Homo sapiens: one gene and its partner. The protein of the gene in region 2 interacts with the protein of the main gene of each other region in a pairwise test. Each region holds a gene or a part of one and is shown on either strand. Other genes may lie near its edges.

Region 1 (7,026 bases), on a different chromosome or scaffold from region 2:
ACACCTGAGTGTCAAATATGAGTTTACCTTGATCACACTAAACAGAAAAACTACTGGAAAGACAAACAGCAGCTTTCCAAGAAATTATTTCTCAAAGTTGTAAATGTTATCTAAATATTATTCGCAGCCATTTTCTTATATGTGTTTTTTTTTTTTTTTTGAGCAAAACTAAGTGGGTCTGGGGAATACAGCCATATCCTTATAATCTCCTGAAATTAAGTAAACTACAAGATTAATTTCAAGATATATCTCCCTACACAGAAAAATCTTAGGTGTTACTAAACCAAATACTCTTCATTTTATTGATATACGTTTCTTTTTGGCGGTGGGGAGACGGAGTCTTGCTCTGTCACCCTGGCTGGAGTACAGTGGCATAATCTTGGCTGCAATCTCCGCCTCCCAGGTTCAAGCAATTCTCCTGCCTCAGGCTCCCAAAGAGCTGGGATTACAGGCATCTCCCACCACTCCCAGCTAATTTTCATATTTTTAGTAGAGACGGGGTTTTTCCATGTTGGCCAGCTTGGTCTTGAACTCCTGACTTCATGTGATTCGCCCGCCTTGGCTTCCCAAAAGTGCTGGGATTACAGGCGTGAGCCACTGCGCCCAGCCCATTTTATTGATACACATTCAAGTTTAAAATTACAATTTAAGGAATTTATGCCTTGGAAGAAGTACATGACACCTGAGACAACTTTTCAAAACTATCAAATGAATCATCTTTCATTATCTCAGATATTCCTAACCTCAGTCTCTTCTTTTTTTCTTTTTGTCTGAGACGGAATTTCGCTCGTTGCCCAGGTTGGAGTGCAATGGCGTGATCTAGGCTCACCACAACCTCTGCCTCCCGGGTTCAAGTGATTCTTTTGCCTCAGCCTCCCAAGTAGCTGGGATTACAGGTGCGTGCCACCACACCCAGCTAAATTTTGTATTTTTAGTAGAGATGGGGTTTCACCATGTTGGCCAGGCTGGTCTCGAACTCCTTACCTCAGGTGATCCGCCCGCCTTGGCCTCCCAAAGTGCTGGGATTACAGGCGTAAGCCACCATGCCCAGCCACCTTCAGTCTTAATACACAGTGGTGTGTCAGAATCACAGTAACAAGGATATAAAAAGCAATGTCTGGCCGGGCGTGGTGGCTCATACCTGTAATCCCAGCACTTTGGGAGGCCAAGGCAGGCGGATCACCTGAGGTCAGGAGTTTGAGACCAGCCTGGCTAACATGGCAAAACCTCATCTCTACCAAAAATGCAAAAATTAGCCAGGCTAATTGTTCAAGAATCAAAACTCTCAAATACTGTTTTAATATAAATTGCAGCAGATTTAGAGTTTTCTCTGAAACACCATTTCTGATGCCCTCAGCCTTCCAATATGCTTTCTTGAGGGTAGCCACATGGCAAGCAGTCATGAGACTCATACTGCAATGCAGACAGAGAACTTCCGTCTTGATCTGTCAACAGATACTGAAGGCCTCCACTTATTCAACAACTTAATACGCACTGACATACACAACAGTCTTTTGTAGAATGGTATTCAATAAGGTTCCAAGAATAACATTTAACAGTTAAAAGAAACAAAGACACAATTTCTAACATGAATAAGCTGCCAAAAAAAATTAGACGCAACCAGCAAATGTTAAGTACATTATAATTCTCTTTCTATAGTTTCAAAACATGGAAAACGACTCTTCAAATGTAACTACAATATTTAACTTCTTAAAAGAACTGAAAGAAAAAATATCTGAATAGCAAATGAAGCCGTGTTGAGGTTTTAAAAACTGAGATATGTGCCAGGCATGGCGGCTCACACCTATAATCCCAGCACTTTGGGAGGCCGAGGCAGGTGGATCACCTGAGGTCAGGAGTTGAAGACCAGCCTGACCAACATAGAGAAACCCCGTCTCTACTAAAAATACAAAATTAGCCAGGCGTGGTGGCGCACGCCTGTAATCCCAGCTACTCGGGAGACTGAGGCAGGAGAATCGCTTGAACCAGGGAGACGGAGGTTGCGGCGAGCTGAGATCGCGCCACTGCACTGCAGCCTGGGCAACAAGAGCGAAATTCTGTCTCAAAAAAATAAACAAATAAATAAATAAACCAAAACAAAACTGAGGTATGAGCACACAGGTATTTTGTTCTATTATTCTCTAGTTGTATTTAAATGTTTGAAGTACTTCACAAATACACCCCTAAAAAGTTTTCAAAGTTCCCTTCCACATTATAAGCCCAGACTCTTAGACAACAGAATTTTTTGGTTTTTTTTTTTTTGAGACAGAGTTTCGCTCGTTGCCCAGGCTGGAGTGCAATGGCGTGATCTCAGCTCACCGCAACCTCCGCTTCCCCGGTTCAAGGGATTCTCCTGCCTCAGCCTCCCAAGTAGCTGGGATTACAGGTGCACACCACCACGCCCGCTGATTTTTGTATTTTTAGTAGAGACAGGGTTTCACCATGTTGGACAGGCTGGTCTCAAAATCCTGACCTCAGGTGATCCGCTCGCTTCGGGTTCCCAAAAAGTGCTGGGATTACAGGCATGAGCCATCACGCCTGGCTTTTTTTTTTTGAGATGGAGTCTCACTCTGTTGCCCAGGCTGGAGTGTGGTGCCATCTTGGCTCACTGTAACCTCCACCTCCGAGGTTCAAGCAATTCTCATGCTTCAGTCTCCCAACTAGCTGGGATTACAGGTACACGCCTCCACACCCAGCTAATTTTTGTATTTTTTGTAGAGACGTGGTTTCACTACATTGGAGAGGCTGGTCTCGAACTCCTGACCTCAAGTCATCTGCCTACCTCAGCCTCCCAAAGTGCTGGGATTACAGGCATGAGCCACTGCACGCAGCCGACACAAAGAAATTTTTGATGCCTGGTATATCATGCTTACCACTCTAAGGATTTTAATACAAAAGTCAAATGAAACAAAATGGCAGAGCTGAAAGATTTCCTTGCCCATAGTCTTTTGAGCACGTTTATAGCATTTTAAGTTTGTTTTTTGAGACAGAGGCTTGATCTGTAGCCCAGGCTGGAGGGCAGTGGTGCAATCTCAGCTTACTGCAACCTCTGCCTCTCAGGTTCAAGTGATTCGCCTGGCTCAGCCTCCCAAGTAGCTGGGATTACAGGCGCCGGCCACCATGTCCAGCTAATTTTTGTATTTTTAGTAGAGATGGGGTTTCACCATGCTTGCCAGGCTGGTCTCAAACTCCTGACCTCAGGTGATCCGCCCACCTCGGCCTCCCGAAGTGCTGGGATTACAGGTATGAGCCACTGCACCTGGCCCCGCATTTTAAGTTTTATATAAGCATAAAAGTCCTTACATTTTGGATGTTCACCTGTTCATTTTATATAAATACAAAGTTTATTTCCTCCTGCTCCAAGGTCTCAAATAAATATTTGGGAAGTTAAAAAAATAAAACTTTTCTTTACCTTTTTGATAGTAGTTACTTGTCCAAGATACCCAGCTGTTCCACTTTCAATAAGAGGAACATCAGCTGCCAGGCACATTCTATTAACATGGTTTCGGGCAGCTGGAAGTAAAACAAACAGTATGAGTTTTTGGGAAAAAAAAAATTAGTTATCTTTAATTAGGATGACACAGACTCAAAACTATCTTACTGGCTTCATTTTTTGTACAATTTTCTTATAGCTATGGCCAGAATAATACAACTGTTAATTACAGACATTTAAGAGACATTCACTTAGCAAAATATCAAATAGAATTTATATCACAAATTTACTCCAGGAGAAGTACCCACAGAAACACATAATCTTAAAAATCCAACGTGCCATATTTCTCTTCTATTGCTGTACCTTACACAAAACACTGTTTCAAGGTGTTCCTAAACTCACCACTATTCTAATATAACTAGCAGATAATACATGATAGAAATGAAGGCAGAATGTGGAATATCAACTTGGAACTATTAAAGTAGTTTAAGGCTAGGGAAAAAAGATGAGTCAGGTTAAGAGAGTAATTTCACGCCAGGAGCACTGGCTCATGCCCATAATCTCAGCATTCTGGGAGGCTGAGGTGGGAGGACTGCTTGAAGCCAGGAGTTCGAGGCCAGCCTGGGCAACAAAGCAAGACTTCATCCCTACAAAAATAAACATAAAAAAATTAGCCGGGTATGGTGGTACCTGTCTGCAGAGTAGCTACTGCAGAGGTTGAGGTAAGAGTATCACCTGAGCCCATTTGAAGGCTTCAGTGAGTTATGATCACACCAGTGCACTCTAGTCTGGGCAACAGTGAGACCCCCCAAGCCTTAAAAAATAAACGTAATTTTGACTTTTCCTTGTGTTTTTTATTTAGATATTTCTGGCCCAACTTGTTGTAAACTCACTTAGTAGATATACTTTTACATGTGGAAGTAATTACAGACAAAGAATATCACTCAAGCATCCCCCACCCCACCCTCCAGTCACACTTTTTCTTTTTTTGAGACAGGGTCGCACTCTGTCACCAAGGCTGGAGTGTAGTGGTGTGATCTAGGCTCACTGCAACCTCTGCCTCCTGGCTTCAAGCGATTCTCCCACCTCAGCCTCCGGAGAAGCTGGGACTACAGGCACATGCCACCACACCGGCTAATTTTTGTGTTTTTTGGTAGAGACGGTTTCACCATGTTGACTAGGTTGGTCTCGAACTCCTGACCTCAAGTGATCCTCCTGCCTTGGTCTCTCAAAGTGCTGGGATTACAGGCGTGAGCCACTGTGCTGAGCCACAGTCACACTTTTTGAGAGCTTTTCACTTCACTTCTATTTATACCTTTTGGTAGAAATGCAGAGAATATGATAGCTAAATTCCCGCCTGGAATAAGTCATTTCTATATAAAACTGCAATCAATGGGCATGCTTTAAACTCGATCATTTCTCTTAAGTCTTTTAAGTTCTAAATCACAATAGTCTAATAAATATTAAATTTGTAAACAAATTTGATATGGGAGAGAGGAAATACTGAGAAATTAAAAGTATTAAAATAACCTCACCTCTGTTATCTAAAGCATTCATAACCAGTATAAACTGTCGGAAAAATTCCACATTATAGTCAGGGCTACAAAACAAAATAAAAAAAGGTCACCAAAATAACTAGCCTTCCACATGATCTTTGCAGTATAATAAACAGTTCTGAAAAAAACATAGTAACTGTAAACAAAACTGATATCAGGATTATATGTCATATAGATAGTAAGGTTTGACTCTTTCCAAACATAAGCAGATTTTAAAGAAATTATTTCCTTCAAATTCCTATCCTTTTTGGCCAGCTAGGGCACAAGAGAAAGATCTCAAACTGGCAGAAAGATGGCATGACTTCACTAGTCCCACTAGGCCTTCTTTGGGCAGCAAGTGCCTGGGAACGCATAAAGAACACATTCCCAGGATCTGCCTGGCCTCTGACTTCACCTCACATGATCAGGATCAGGCAGGGTTCAGGCCCCTAGGGTCTCTGTTTTTAGCAGCACTGGGAAAGCAACACAGGGTAAGGAGGTTATAGGGCTACAGGCAGGTTCACAGAGTAAAAAACTAAAAAACAAGCCGGAGATACAGGCCGGGTGCAGTGGCTCACGCCTGTAATCCCTGCACTTTGGGAGGCCAAGGCGGGTGGATCACCTGAGGTCGGGAGTTTGAGACCAGCCTGGCCAACATGATGAAACCCCGCCTACTAAAATACAAAAATTAGCTGAGTGTGGTGGCGTGCGCCTGTAATCCCAACTACTCAGGAGGCTGAGACAGGAGAATCGCTTGAACCCAGGAGGCGGAGGTTGCAGTGAGCCAAGATCATGCCACTGTACTCCAGCCTGGGCAATAAGCGCAAAACCCTATCTCACACACAAAAAAAACACAATCCGGAGATACAAATGCCCTGAGAAAGTGTTAAGTACCTCAATTCCAGTACCTCAAACAAGGACTATTTTTAACACTATTTACTTGCAAGCTAAACCACCATAGATAAAGGACAATTTCGGCCCACAGTTCCTTTGCTCCAACTCCTCCAAAATTATATATTTACTCTATCTTTACTGAGATAAATATATTTATGTACTGTCAATACTACTGCCCTACCACAATTCCAAGTGTTATATTACAGAAGTCAGAGTCATACTACAGATTATTTTGGGAGGGAAACTTTTAAACAAAAAAAGGCAAACACTTTAGAAAAGTCTGAATCATCATAAATAAGGATATTTCATAGTTTAAAATATCTTCTTACTTAAGGCAAGCATATAAGGTCTTTATAAATTTCCAAGTAACTTATTTATTAAAAGTATTAAACTATCTCACCATTCTAAATCATTCAAACCATGTATTTATGAACTGGTAAAAAGAATGCCACTCTGTAAGCAGAAACCACCACTGTTTAATAATTCTAGAAAAATCATTTTTTTTAAAAAAGCTGAATGACTTTGAGCTTATATATTTGGCTTACAAAACCCTTATACAACTTTGCAATGTAATCACTATAGCATACTTCATGATGCTGTCATGGTAGGCAACGATATTAGCTTTCGGGTAAAACTGCAGTACACTTTCCTTGGCAACCTGGAAAAATAAACAACACTGAATTACTACAATATTTCTGTTCCTATCTGAAATCTGCTTCTGGAAGCCACAATGCTGTTATCTACTTACATAGTACCTTATTTATATTAAACACCAAAGAAGTCCAAAAATGTGAGAAAATTGCATTAGGGTTAAGCTACACTTATAAAATTATACTTTTATACTTATAAAATAACCGGAGAGCCCCCCCTGACCCACGTACCACCAAACACACTTCTACATGAATGGCAAGCTTCAGCAAAAATACAACATGAAGTAACCAAGTGTCATTCATTCATTCACTTAACAAGTATTTACTGAGCATCTTGCATGTACCAGGAACTATACAACGTACATGTCAAGCAAGAGAGACATTAATCAAATAACAATCCAGATTAAGTTCAACTACAGACTCTGATAAATGCCATGAGAATGACAGGAAAAGGCCAGGCATGGTGGCTCATGCCTGTAATCCCAGCACTTGGGAGGCCAGTGTAGGAGGATCC
Region 2 (7,026 bases):
GTTTTGTTTGATTTTGGCATTGGAGTTTTCGTCTGAATGCCCCTTCCTCTGGTTCTACAATTTGCCACATATACATACCAAACAAACACACAAAAAATATGGGTGAGCTCTATTACATAGCTTTAAAGTTTGTCTTTACTTCCATGTATTTTTGAAAGTTCTCGTAATAAAGTTAAAAATAAATAAAAGCATCTACATCTAACACTGATATTTAAAATTACTCCAGCAAAAAAATTTGTCATAACTGCTCTGAGCCTTACTTTATCATCCACTTACTTTAATGAATACTCAATCCAAGCCAGGCACAGTGGCTCACGCCTGTAATCCCAGCACTTCGGGAGGCCGAGGCGGGCGGATCACTTGAGGTCAGGAGCTCGAGACCAGCCTGGCCAACATGGCGAAACCCCATCTCTACTAAAAATACAAAAATTAGCTGTGGGTGGTGGTGTACGCCTGTAATCCCAGCCACTAGGGAGGTACTCGGGAGGCTGAGGCAGGAGAATCACTTGACCTGGGAGGCAGAGGTTGCTGTGAGTCAAGATCGTGCCACTGTACCCTAACCTGGATGACAGCGAGACACTGTCTCAAAAAAAAAAAACAAAAAACCACAATCCAACCAAAATGCAGCCCAGCATTCACAGCATTCTACGTGACCTACCGTGAAGCCTGAAGACCATCATTCTAGTCCTTACGATTTGTTTCACATAAGATAGTGGTTTTTTCCTCTTTTTATTTCCCATAACCTTCCCTCCCTCTGCCACCCTTTTCTCTGACACAGTTACACACAATATAAAAAATATATACAAATCAAAGAGGAAATGGCATGTTAATACTTATTTACATGTCAGTTAACTCAAGTAAAGTAAAATGATACAGCTAGTTAACAGCATCAGTGCCCTCACCCATACCTACCTCTGTCAGTAGACGATAGAGGAGGCCAACAATAGTTTTTGATTTTCCTGTTCCAGGTGGTCCATGAATCAAGCAGATTTTGGCAACTGATGGTGAGTGTTTCACCATAGCATATGCAGTTTCTATTGCTTTCTTTTGATCTTCATTGAAATCTCTTAAGTACGCAATCTATATAAAAAACACATTTTTGAGAATGAGTTGCTGTTTCTGTAGTGGAATTTGAAAGGAAGAACATGAAAAAGACCTGTCCAAATTTCTTTCAATGCATGAGACAAAAGCTTTGGTTATGGTCAGACAAGACAAGGACACCAAAGTGACCTTTAATCTAAAAAGCACGTTCACTACTGGAAAGAAAGCTAATTACTTACTAATTACTAATTAGTGTCTGTAACGCTTCAAGTACTTACAAATACAACTGTACTTTTATTTTTTATTCTTACAAAGATAATCACAATAAATTGCATTTACTAATCCACAACTTTTCTTCTATTTACTACTCTGTTTTTTTCCTTCTTTAGTCAATTTTCTCCTTAGTGAAAACATCCCAAGACTATTTATTTCCTAGCACATGTGATACAGTGGAAAAAGCATGTATGCCAGGGGAAGATCTGGGTGTAAGCTTCACTTGCACTTACAAGCTAGGCCACTACGCTCCTAACCCAAGCCTTGGCCTCTGTTACTCATTAAATCTAGGATTCCTTAAGAGGTGAGAACAGACTGAGATAATGCACATGAAAGCCATAGCATACAGCTCTAGAGTTTCTAAATAGTTAGTTTCCTTTTGCATTTCTCTGTTAACTTCCTAGAGTTTATACACAGCTTCACATGTTCAGTTGACAACTTCATCTTTGCATTTCCAACAATACCGGCCAATTCTCCATCAATCATTCAAATGTAAATTTAACACCACTAAACCTGAGACTTCTCACCTAATGCACATTAAGTAGGCTGCTGACCTAACATTTTAATGTTGCTCTTCCAGCAACCTTCGACGCTTATTGTACTGTACCTTTTCCTGAAGTGAGCTGACTTAACCTAAATTACATACTTTGCAATACTAAAGAAAACTAACACTAAACTGTTCACCGTGAACACATTTTTGTTGTAAACATATAGGAATACATAGCAGCTAAAAAATATGATGCTTTAACATCTTAACATGAAATTATCTAGTATCATACATCATCACTCACAATTCTCTCAGATGTTGTAGTCAGTAAATCTTTTGTACAGAAGTCCATAGGGTTTGGATTCAGAACAGCTCTAGCCAGTTGGTTCCGACTACCCAACAGAGACATGGCTTTCAACTTCCTTTGTGTAGTTACCAGAGAACTGATTACAATACAATTCACAAGTTCGTTTAAATTGGCCGGAAAGTTCTCTTGAGTCTGGATGGAAAGGTAACACTCAGTTTTCCCATTACGCACTATCATCAAGAAAGAGAAAAAGCAACTTCAGTTATCACTGAATAATGCTGCCTAGTTGTAAAGGTCATGCAGAATTAGGTATTTTTAACATATTTTTGGATATTATTTACATAATTTACCCAGTAAATATTTATGGACTGCTTCCTGAACCCAGTAATGTTCTGTCCTCCGGAGGCTTATTTTCTAGAAGATGGAGGCAGATAACCAAATAAATATGTCAGGTGGTAGTAAGTGCTCTGAAGAAAGCACACAAAGGGAGGAAGTGATGGGGATGGAGGCAGATAAGCTGGTCCGAGAAGGTCTTCCTGATGAAATATTTGAGCAGAGACTTGAAGTAAGGGAGTAAACAGTACTCAGCAGAGGGTAAATAGTACTACATGCAGAAAATAAGCAACTGCAAAGATCGTAAGACAGAGATGTGCCAGGAATATTTTAGAAATAGGGAGAAGGCTAACATGGATAGAAGGAAAAATAGGGAGAAGAACGCTTAGCGACTCAGAGTAAAACGGGGCTACATTTTATAGGGCTGTGCAGATCACAGTAATGACTCTGAACGCTATTCAGGATCAGGGTAGAAAACCATTGGGCACTCTGTGTAGGGAAATAACATGCTCTATCTCACAAACTAAAAGAACCACTCTTACCTCAGAACAAAGAATAACTACAATGAGAAAAGTACAGAAACAAAAAGACCACTTACAAGGTTACCATAGTAATTTAGGTAAAAGTTAATGACAGCTTGGACCAGGAGGCACTAGTAGACGTGGGAACTGGATTTGGGATATATTGCAAAGGAAAAATCAATCATATCTGCTGACAAATTAGAAGTGAGGTGTGAGAGAAAGTAAGGATCATGGATAACTCCAAGGTTTTTGGCCTGAGTAACTGAAAGAAGTGAGGCCCCAATTAACAAGATGGGAAAGAATGAAGGAAGTGCAGATGTCAGGCAGAAAATCAAGTGTTAACTTTTGGACTAGTGGATTTGAAATGTCTAACACATTTCCAAATGGAGGTATCCAAGACATGATTTTGATCTATGAGGAGTTCAGGGAATGAGACTGCCTTAGAACTATAAATTTGGCAAAGGTAATCATTTTCAAGAGCCAAAAGCACAGAGTAAGCCATCAATCCTCACTGCAACTCTTCTAAATGTATCCTATATTCTACAGAATTAAGCCCTGATCACACAAATAAACATGGTACACCTGTTATAATGCAGTACAATGTTGACACACTTTATTGCTATATTAATATATCATGCAAAAAGGAGAAGGAATAATGAAATAATGTTCTTCTCTTCACATAACTAAGACTAAAAAAGTTGCAATTGCCAAAAAGGCAGTTTGGCATAAGAAAAACAATGTGGACTTTGCAGTCAACAAAAGCAGGCTTCAATTCTGGACTTACCAATTAACACTGATGACAGCCTTGAAAATAGGTTTACTTAACATCCCTGAACCATGATTTCCTGGGGAGCAAGGAATAATTTCTTCTACCTTTTGGGGCTTTGGGGAAGATTATAAATGTACATAAGAAGGACAAGTCTCGGCTGGGCGCGGTGGCTCACGCCTGTAATCCCAGCACTTTGGGAGGTTGATGGGGGTGAGGAGTTCGAGACCAGCCTAGTCAACATGGTGAAACCCCGTCTCCACTAAAAACACAAAAAATTAGCCGGGACTGGTGGCGGATGCCTATAATCCCAGCTACTTGGGAAGCTGAGGCAGGAGAATCGCTTGAACCCAAGAGGCGGAGAGTGCAGTGAGCCGATACAGCACCACTGCACTCTAGCCTGGACAACAAGAGTGAAACTCCGTCTCAAAAAAAAAAAAAAAAAAAAAAAAAGGGACAAGTCTCACTGCATACATCTGGTATTCATTAAATTTAGGCTAATATTTTTGTTATTAAATTACCTAGGGAGAAACATACAACGGATGGAAGTGATGTAAGCAGATTCCTCAAGCTGCCTTACAGTGAGTTTTATGTTTGGTCATCTCATTAGTAATTGGCCACAAAACCAAGGATGAAATGTAATTTAACAAACAACAGATGGTCTGCAAATGGTCCATTTTATAGCAAACACAATGATGGATAAAGAAATGTAACAAAAGGATAGAACATTACAAAAATAAATACAAGGTCTTTTCCAGTTAAGTCTAGAAAAACTAGAAAAGAGACTCTGAATGGCCATGTAATCAACATAGCAAAAACATGTTCGGTAAATGTCTATCAAATACACTTGATATACACAATTGAGAAGTAGATTATTAGATGAGACTGTATCTGACATTTCCTGTCAATGCCTCATTATTTACTTACTGACTGACGTGCGGCGAAATTTATGAACATAACCAGAATGATATTCGTGGAGATCTTGTATGTCATTTCTCTCTGTATCTTTCTTCTCTTCATTTATTCTCTCAGGAGCTAAAAACACCAAATCGTTTTCCTTTGGATAAAGCTGTTTAGCCAGTTCACATTCTTCCAGATAAACTATGAAACAAGAAGAAGTCGGAATTCATATAACTCTAATAGAATTATTTTAAATAAGATTAACTTAAAAGAAATTAAATCCTTGTATTAAGTTCAAAAATACACAGCACTAAAGGACTCTGCATATACTTTAAAATGGTAATCTAATCCAATCAAAAACTTCAAATATTAAAAATATCAATTATAGAATATAGTTTTCTTCAAAACTGCTATAAGGCCAAAATAGACAAAACTATAATATTGAAAAGTAGCTAATAAATTTTCTTTCCTTTAGGTTTATTCTGCTTTTTTTTTTTTTTTTTTTTTTGAGATGGAGTCTCGCTGTGTTGCCCAGGCTGGAGTGCAGTGGCGCGATCTCGGGTCACTGCAAGCTCAGCCTCCCAGGTTCTCGCCATTCTCCTGCCTTAGCCTCCCAAATAGCTGGAGGCGCCCGCCACCACGCCCGGCTAATTTTTTTGTATTTTTAGTAGAGATGGGGTTTCACTGTGTTAGCCAGGATGGTCTCGATCTCCTGACCTCGTGATCCGCCCGCCTCAGCCTCCCAAAGTGCTGGGATTACAGGGGTGAGCCACTGTGCCTGGCCTATTCTGGTTTTTAACTAAATTTCTCTCATTTGTTTCCAACTTTCAAAACCCCCGAAGAAAATTCGGAAACAGATCCAAGTAGTTATACACCGCATAATGATGTTGTGGTCAGTGATGGACCGGATATATACAACAGTGGTCCCATAAGATTATAATATATTTTTACTGTATCTTTTCTATGTTTAGATACACAAATACTTCCCCATGTTACAATTACCTACAGTATTCAATACGGTAACATGCTGTACAGGTTGGCAGACTAGGTGTGTGGTAGGCTACACCGCCTAGGTTCCTCTAAGTACACTCTTACTTCTCATGATGTTGGCATGATGATGAAATCGCCTGACACATTTCTGAGAATGTATCCCCATCATTAAGTGACATGTGATTGTACATACAAGAATTTTGCAACTTCTACGCATTTCAAACAAGTGGGGAAAGACGGTTGTAAACTACATGGGACTAGGAAAACAGAGAAAGCACTGGAATAAAGTTCAGTACCAACTGCCGAATCTAGCCCTATACTCTGAAAAATACAAACCACTGCTGAGAGAAACTGAAGACAGCCTGAACAAATGAAGAAATGTACTAAGTTCAAGGCCTAAGACTTAATATTGTTAAAATGTCAGCTGTCCCCAAATTAATCTTTAGAGTCAAAGCAATCCTAGTAAAAATACCAGCAGATGGCCGCCAGGCACAGTGGCTCACGCCTGTAATCCCAGCACTCTGGGAGGCCAAGGCAGGTGGATCATGAGGTCAGGAGATCGAGAACATCCTGGCCAACACGGTGAAACCCCGTCTCTACTAAAAATACAAAAAATTAGCCGGGCATGGTGGCAGGCATCTGTAGTCCCAGCTACTCGGGAGGCCGAGGCAGGAGAATGACGTGAACCCAGGAGGCGGAGCTTGCAGTGAGCCGAGATCACACCACTGCACTCCAGCCTGGGTGACAGAGCAAGAATCCATCTCAAAAAAAAAAAAAAAAAAAAAGGCCAGGTGTGGTGGCTCACGCCTGTAATCCCAGCACTTTGGGAGGCCGAGACGGGCGGATCACCTGAGGTCAGGCGTTTGAGACCAGCCTGGCCAACATGGTGAAACCCCATCTCTACTAAAAATACAAAAATTAGCCAGGCGTCGTGGCAGGCGCCTGTAATCCCAGCTACTTGGGAGGCTGAGGCAGGAGAATCGCTTGAACCTGGGAGGTGGAGATTGCTGTGAGCCAAGATTGCGCCATTGCACTCCAGCCTGGGCAACAAGAGTGAGACTTTGTCTCAAAAAAAAAAAAAAAAAAAGCAAAAAAAAAAAAAAAAACCAGCAGGCATTTTTATAAATGTTGACAAGTTGATTCTAAAACTGATGACAATAAAAAGAAACTTTTTACAAAGAACAAAACTGAAAGGCTGACTATCCAATTTCAGTATTTTTTATAAAACAACAATAAGAGACTGTGGTATTGGTGGAAGGCAGCTATACAGATAAAGAAAACGGTGTTTAAAAGCAGACCTGCAATCAAGATCAACTGATATTCCGACAAATATGCCAAGTTATTGAATGGCAAGGTTATTCAATGAGAAAGGCTACATTTTTTTTAACAAGTAACACTAAAACTGAGC

Evidence for each region. Proteins that work in one complex are often made in the same cells at the same time.
Region 1: the proteins of SETX (region 2) and UBA2 interact in a two-hybrid assay, tested with the Homo sapiens proteins (one study listed by BioGRID and IntAct).

What each region holds. Positions count from the first base shown.
Region 1 is NC_000019.10:34,431,355-34,438,380, reverse strand, and holds part of UBA2 (SUMO-activating enzyme subunit 2), read right to left. Parts: intron 6,521-7,026; coding exon 6,450-6,520; intron 5,034-6,449; coding exon 4,969-5,033; intron 3,514-4,968; coding exon 3,413-3,513; intron 1-3,412. UniProt on the Homo sapiens protein: The heterodimer acts as an E1 ligase for SUMO1, SUMO2, SUMO3, and probably SUMO4. It mediates ATP-dependent activation of SUMO proteins followed by formation of a thioester bond between a SUMO protein and a conserved active site cysteine residue on UBA2/SAE2.
Region 2 is NC_000009.12:132,295,975-132,303,000, forward strand, and holds part of SETX (probable helicase senataxin), read right to left. Parts: intron 4,830-7,026; coding exon 4,656-4,829; intron 2,339-4,655; coding exon 2,106-2,338; intron 1,081-2,105; coding exon 913-1,080; intron 55-912; coding exon 1-54. UniProt on the Homo sapiens protein: Probable RNA/DNA helicase involved in diverse aspects of RNA metabolism and genomic integrity.